2 linked regions of the Homo sapiens genome follow. The protein of the gene in region 2 interacts with the protein of the main gene of each other region in a pairwise test. Each region holds a gene or a part of one and is shown on either strand. Other genes may lie near its edges. The genes, in order: GMCL1 and EXOC3.

Region 1 (3,821 bases), on a different chromosome or scaffold from region 2:
TCCTTCCAGCCTTGTAGTCTAGAAAACTCCTTTTATCACCTCAAGGTGATAATTTGATGTTGATTTACACCATAGTTTATCAGTTCTGTCCATCTTATCACTAATCTGTTTTGTCATTTGGGCCTTATCAGTTTGTTTACTTATCTTTGTAAATATGCCCACCTGGGATATGGAAGATGTAGGATGGAGGAAGGAAAAGTATGACCATTTTTTTTTTTAATTACATAGAAAATCTGATAAATAATACTGATTATTCCCTATGTATGAAGATGTTTTCTGGGAACAATAAATAAAAATATTGTTTTAGAGCTAAAAGAATCCTTAGTTGAGGAAGCTGAGGCTCAGAGGAGTTAAGGGACTTATTTTGGATCTCAGAGCAGTTTAGTGAGCCTGTGTCAGACTACAGCTCTCCTCATTCCCATTCCAGTGCTCTTGCTGCTCCCCTCATTGGTGGTCCACATGGAAGTACCTGGTGCGATACAAAGGCAAAGAAATACTTTAGTTAAGAATATTTACAGCCTGTAATCCCAGCACGTTGGGAGGCCAAGGTGGGTGGATCACAAGGTCAGGAGATCGAGACCATCCTGGCTAACATGGTGAACCCCATCTCTACTTAAAAAAATACAAAAAATTAGCCAAGCGTGGTGGCAGGCACCTGTAGTCCCAGCTATTTGGGAGGCTGAGGCAGGAGAATGGCGTGAACCCGGGAGGCAGAGCTTGCAGTGAGCCGAGATCGCGCCACTGCACTCCAGCCTGGGCGACAGAGCGAGACTCCATCTCAAAAAAAAAAAAAAGAATATTTACAAAGCAAACCATGTGGGACATTCATAACAGTGGCAGTGGAGGAAGGATGAACAGGCATAGATCACTGTGGGGGCTGGGAATGAGTGTGGCATGGACAGGACTCAGGAGCTGTACCACATTTCTCAGTGGTGGAGTGCTGAAAGCAGCCGGGTTAAGATTATCTTTGAGTCTGCGTATTTGTACTTAACGATTGGTCTACTGAGGAGTATCTTATACAACTTCTTGCAAGGCATCTTGGTTGTGACCACTGATGTCAAGATTACATGTTAGAAGAATGCAGCTAGATTTGGTAGAATAAACAGAAATTTATAACCTTGTTATTAAATTAACAGTGTCAACCAGTAACCATTACTAGCGTTTTAATTAGAGATACTTCTGTTATCCTTTTATGTGCATGCCACATTTAGACGGATGTCTTTGTGTGTGAAGACAGTCGTTGTTGTTATTTGTATAACACTTGTAATAGATATAAATATTATTTCATCCTACATGTGTACCTTGCTTTCAGCACTGCAGGTTGCATTTGGTTCACTGTATCGAGATGATGTCTTGATAAAGCCCAGTCGAGTTGTTGCCATTTTGGCAGCAGCTTGTTTGCTGCAGTTGGTAAGTATGCACGTTATTCGAAGAAAGGTTCAGAATAATAATCTTTGTCTCAAAGTGTGTACTCCAAAAACAAAAATAAAGCTTAGCTTTTTTGGAGTTTTTAAATAAAAATGAAATGTATAAATATGACATTTATTATAAATCATTTAAAATGCCTAACCAAAAGCAATTTATTACAACCGAGGGAGTCATGATGTCTGCATAAAATGAATGCAGGCCATTTCTGTGTAGATATCTTAGTATGACTATAATGTGGAAAAAACGTACTTGTCTAAGGTCATTTACAGATTTCATTAATGACTTGACTATTAAGCAGATGGCTTATGATTACCAATTAATTTCATTCATGGGTTCAAATAAACATGCATGCCTACTATTTAAATTTCTCTTAATTTTGAAAGAATTGTGTATAAATCACATATATGTATTTTAATCTACTGGCAGAATGACAGATTTGTTCATTGAAGAGAAGTGTGTTGAGCACTGTGTCAAACTAGACACAGAAAGCCAAAGGTAACTTAAGACGTAATCCTTACTTTCAAAAAGTTCACAACATAGTATGTATGTGTGGAGAGGGGAGGGAGGGTTGATATACAAACCCAAAGGTAAAGTAAGAGCTGTTCAATATTATAGGTATGATAATAAACATCCTGTAGCATTTAGTGAATGGATAAAGAAGGGAGTGGTCAGTTCATCCTGGTGGTGTCACATACGAAAGTTACATTTTCACACAGAGTCTTGAAAGTGTGTTTGTATTGCAAAGTAAGAAGAGGGGAAGGAAGAGCATTTCAGACAGAGAGAACAGAGTAAACTAAGATCTAGTGATGTGAAATAATGGAGGATTCAAGACTCTAACAGAAACATGGCTCCCACATAAACATAAGAAGGATTGCAGAAGAGGGGGGCAGAAGCCAGATCATGAAAATACATCTATACATTGCTAAGAAGTTTAGCATACACAGTACCTTTGGAATATTTTAATCAGGGGAAAGACGAAGTTATGTTTTAGAAAGAATACTTCAGTAACAATGTGACAGATGAATTGAAGGAAAGATGAGTACAGCATTAGAGACAAAAACTTGTTGCATTCGTCCAAGGGAGGAAAGTAGGGTAGTAGCAATAAGCTTGGAGGGGAAAAAGTGGATACCAGAGAGATTCAGGGATAATCCACTGGACTTGGTGATAGACTAAATGTTAAGAGGAAAGGGGAGGAGTCTAGAATGATTTCCAGGTAAGTTTAAAATCCTAATGGAGTCAATGTTTTATTTTAATCTTAAAAAATTGTTTACTTTTATGTGGTATTTTTGTACTGATTTATTTGAAGTATTAATAGCTTGCTAAATATCCTTGGTTGAGATCATTTGATTTTCAAAATGTTTTGATCCTTTCAATACTTACTTCCAATAAGTATACTTTATTATCTAACTCTGGTCCTTTTGGTTTTGTTCTAAATTCACCTTCTGCTTACTTTTATGATTTACTAACTCTTTAACTTAATATACCTGCATGATGAATGTATTTCAGAAATTTGAATGAAAAGTAGTATTCTTCCCATATATTAAAGTTAGTTCACTTAAAACCTATATAAACATTTTAGGTTAAAACTTTAATGTTAATCATTTGAAATAATAATATACTTGTTTTAAGTCTATCTCTTAGATATTGTAGTTATTTTAAACTTGATCACTTTCTGCTAATGCATACTGTTAGTTTAGTCCCATCACATGGTTAACTGACTATGTAGACTTCTTAATTTAAAAAGAAATGGCAAAACAGACAAAATGCTGCTAAAGAAATTTGCAAAGGTCTCAGACAGGGGAAGAATAGAAAAGAAAAAGAATAGCAGTATTCATTCTCTACCTTACTACTCCCCCCCACCTTCCATTTTCAAATTCCAAGTATTTAGTTGAATACTTGCTGAACTTTTTTCAGTATTTTTATTGGACTTGTTAAAAAAAAAAAAAAAAACTTAGGTTTGCTGCACTTAATGAGTTTTCTTTCTTTTCTTTCTTCTTTTTTTTTTTCTTTTACTTTTTAATATGTAAAAGCTGTCAGAGCTAATTTTTCCCACGTGAAATGGGCCTTTCCAGTGCTTATTTATATTTACAGGACGGTTTAATACAGCAGTGTGGTGAGACAATGAAGGAAACAGTTAATGTGAAAACTGTATGTGGCTATTACACATCAGCAGGGACCTATGGATTAGATTCTGTAAAGAAAAAGTGAGTTGCCTTTCTTGTTTTTCTTCCTATCCCACTTTTAGGAATTTGGTTGCTTTAGTTTCTTAAGAGAATGTATAGCTATAAGAAAGAAAGAATTAAGGAAAAATAGGATAGGGGGATGGAATTTTATTAAATAAAAAGCCCCTTTTAACTTTTGGACTAATTAGTAAATTCCTCAAAAGTGTCGTC
Region 2 (3,821 bases):
CGTGTCAAGCAGCTCAGAGACCACGTGTGGAGAAAGCAATGGCTCCAGGGTGCCGACATCCACTTCCGGGGCCAGCTCCACGTTCCTCATCATCTCAGTACTATGGGGGAACCAGGAATGTGAGTGACAAACCACGACAGACACAGAAGAGCATGCCCAAGTGTGCCGAGACTGTTTCACTTGACACATGAATGTCCACCACCCTGGAGACTTCCTGGTCACAGCCGGCCCACAGCTCAGGGGAAAGTGCAGGGCAGGGGCCGAGGGCTTTGGGGTCTCTGTGGCATCACCCCACTGGCTCCCAGACTGCGTGAGTCCCTCCAACCGGGGAAAGTGCAGGGCAGGGGCCGAGGGCTTTGGGGTCTCTGTGGCATCACCCACTGGCTCCGAGACCACTTGAGTCCCTCCAACCCCAGCTTCACCCTGCTGCGCCAGCTTCATGAGGTGCTGGGGCTCAAATGTGGAAGAGCCTTTCCTGTGGGGAAGACGTGTGTTCTATTCACTGCACCTGCAGAGCCGAGGCAGGGCCTGGCAAACAGGAGGCGCTGAATAAACAAACGTACTCAGTCAAAACGACAAGCACAGCCGCCCCCACAGCCACGGGCGCCACGTCCACTGACTCAACCAAACACAAACTGAAAGTATTTGGGAAAAACAACAATAAAAAATAATAAAAATTTCAAAAAATATAGAACAACTATTTCCATAGCATTCACATTGTATTTAGTCTTATAAGTAATCTAGAAATGATTTAGAGCATGAAGGAGAATGTACGCAGGTTACGTGCAAACACTATACCCTTTTATAAAGGGGACTTGGGCTACGGAGGATTTTGATAGCCAAGGGGGGTCCTGGAATCCCTCCCCATTGAGTATGGAGGGGCAGCTGTGCTGTCCTTTGGAAACAAGCCACTGCAGTCCACATCAATATGCTCTGCAGACGGTGATGACTGGAACGTACAATACAGGACATTACTGATAAAAACGCATCCGCAAGAACAGGCAAAACTACGTGAGGTCTACTGTCCAGAAGACAGGAAACACATGCTACATTTCAGGAAAAGTTTTCATTAGAAAGTTATTATCAGCCGGGCATGGTGGCTCACGCCTGTAATCCCAGCACTTTGGGAAGCCGAGACGGGCGGATCATGAGGTCAGGAGATTGAGACCATCCTGGCTAACACAGTGAAACCCCATCTCTATTAAAAATACAAAAAAATTAGCGGGGCATGGTGGCACGCGCCTGTAGTCCCAGGTACTCGGGAGGCTGAGGCAGGAGAATGGCGTGAAGCCGGGATACACCTACTATGTACCCACAAAAATTAAAATTAAAAAGTTTTTTTAAGTCTAAGGTTTGACCACTCAGAAAATTCTTTCAACTCACACGCCTCATGCTATGTTCCGTAAATACGTTCTCAGAGTAACACTGAATAAAATGATTAAGAGCCAGTCCACTATAAGAAATCCGAGAGCTTCCTAAGTGAAAAAGTACTTCCTAAAATTCTGCACATTTTAAAAGACTTTTATTTAATCTGGATTATTTTTCCCAAGAACCTCAATTCCGTGTGAGAATGTTTCTAGTGGAGCACTTCAACCTCCCCTGAGAAAGGCCGGGGTGATGGAACTCACGAGACTCCCCAAGGACAGAAAAACACTCACAACGTGGAAAGACAAAATCAAGACACAAACTGTGCAAGGTGCACACATGCACAGCCCAGCCTAGTGGCCATGGCCCGGGAGGGCCCAGGGATGGGACTGGAATCCAGCTTCCCACTCACTGGCCGTGTCCCCTGCCTCCTGCCTCATGGGCTGCTGACACACACCAGGCACGGAGGGGGAGACCTGCACTGTCAAGGCTACAGAATGGGCGGCCATGAGGATGAGCGGCAGCCAGGGGAGGTGAGTCCAGGGCTGTGCACAGAGAGCCACAGTTGCACAGAGCGCCACGGTTGCACAGAGAGCCACCATTGCACAGAGCGTCACGGTGACCATTCTCTGCAGGGGGCGCTTCCTTTCTCTTCTGTCCTTCTGTATTGAAATGCAAATTCTCTATAAGCAGATACCAGTAAACAAAGCACACAAAAAAATATGCCTTACTGCTAAAAAAAAAAAAAAAAAAAATGAGGTTTATTCAATTTCTCCACTGCAGTGACAAGATGGGCGGAAGAAAAAAAAGAAGAAGAAGAAATTCCAATACATTACTTAATATTATTTTCTAACCATGAAACCATGGAAAATTGAAATAAATTTTCATTTCGGCTACCTAATCTTAAAGAATTTCAGAATACCCCCACCACTGCACCATTTTTCAACACTACTTCAAATTAATCCACGCACAGAGTGGTTCATGGTCCCTTAAGTGAAGTGACAAAACCTCGTACTAGGATACAAAAAGGATGATGGAGTTTCCTCGAACTATCTAGACTTGTAACTGTTTATTTTTGAAAGACTCACTGCTATAGGATATTGGTGAAGAGAAACCAAACCCGGGATGCTGGAAGCCAGGGAGGTGATGTAGTGGTCTCCTCCCCAGTGGGGTGGCCATGTGCCAGTCCCAGCCCCGCCTGGGACCATGTGTCCTCACCTGTAAAATGGGGTAACAACACACCTGCCTCAGGGTGTCACTGCAAGGAAGCAAGTCAGCACACGGTGAGCACAGGAAACAGGCCCAGCCCAGAGCTGCACCCTGTCAAGCTCAACGGGGGCTGGAGGCCAAGAGCAGAGATCCCTCCCAAGCACAACAGTGTTCAAACACCAGAGGCTGGGCACCAGCAGGCAGAGCAGAAAGAAGACACCCCTGGGCTGGAAACCAAGGCTGTGGGCTCGGAGCACCTGCCCAGAGCAACACCCTGAGGTCGGCTCTCCAGCAAGCAGCTGCAGGCCCCTCTCACACACGGCTTCTACCTAAGAGCCAACACAGGCGCCAGGTTAGCTTTACCTTGTGTAGGTGTTTAAGACCCACGTCAAGAGGCTCACGATCTCATTGGCTTCCAGGTCTTCCGATGCGAGGTCCTGCATCCGCGTGCTCAGGGCTTGGTGGTACATGTTCAGGAGGTTCTTAAAGATCTCATAGTGGGGAGGAAAGCACTGAACCATCAGGTTTTTGGCGACAATGAGGTCATCCAGGACGTACTTCCTTATAATTTCCAGGTGGCGGACAAGCCACATCTTGTCAGACTCTCTGGTATCTGCCTGTGTGCCCTCAATTCTGGTGGTCACAGTCCTCTCCAAGATGGTGAACATTTTCTCCTTCCAATTCTTGGGCCTCCCAGGAGGAACAAAGCCAGTTTGCTTTTTCCGGTCAAGTATGCGCCTGTCAATTTTCTCTTCCCTTTCAATGATCCTGACAACTGAGACCAGCAAGGTGGGGTCACGGCGGACAGTGACCAGTGACCTCTGCAGCACCATCCACAGCTGCTTAGCCAGCTCATCAGAGAGCCCCTGCGTGCTGCCAAAGTAGCCATGGATGAGGGTCATGTCACGCGTGTTCCCACTGTCCATGCGGTACTGCTCGTACATCAGCCCGTCCCGGGAGCACTCCAGGTCCATCAGCTTCCGGTGGGCTTGCAGGAGTGCCCCTTGTTCAATTAGGTCCTGGGTCTCCCTCACAATCTCAGGCACTAGGGAGAAGGCACAAGACACAACATAAACAACCACCACCACATAAAAGGCTGCCTGCATGCGGTGTTCTGGGAACACGGCAGAGCAGGAAGCCACATCTCCCTAGCTAACAACAACTGCAATGGCAGGATGTGTCTGAGGTAACTATCTTTGGAACTCTGGAGTCTATTAAAGGCATAAATGGTAAACTGTGGTTAACTG

The links.
Region 1: the proteins of EXOC3 (region 2) and GMCL1 interact in binary tests that used the Homo sapiens proteins (3 or more experiments, as listed by UniProt).

The regions. Positions count from the first base shown.
Region 1 is NC_000002.12:69,839,630-69,843,450, forward strand, and holds part of GMCL1 (germ cell-less protein-like 1), read left to right. Parts: intron 1-1,312; coding exon 1,313-1,410; intron 1,411-1,853; exon of another isoform or gene 1,854-1,923; intron 1,924-3,458; exon of another isoform or gene 3,459-3,486; coding exon of another isoform or gene 3,487-3,519; coding exon 3,520-3,632; intron 3,633-3,821. UniProt on the Homo sapiens protein: Possible function in spermatogenesis. Enhances the degradation of MDM2 and increases the amount of p53 probably by modulating the nucleocytoplasmic transport.
Region 2 is NC_000005.10:453,168-456,988, reverse strand, and holds part of EXOC3 (exocyst complex component 3), read right to left. Parts: intron 3,620-3,821; coding exon 2,938-3,619; intron 101-2,937; coding exon 1-100. UniProt on the Homo sapiens protein: Component of the exocyst complex involved in the docking of exocytic vesicles with fusion sites on the plasma membrane.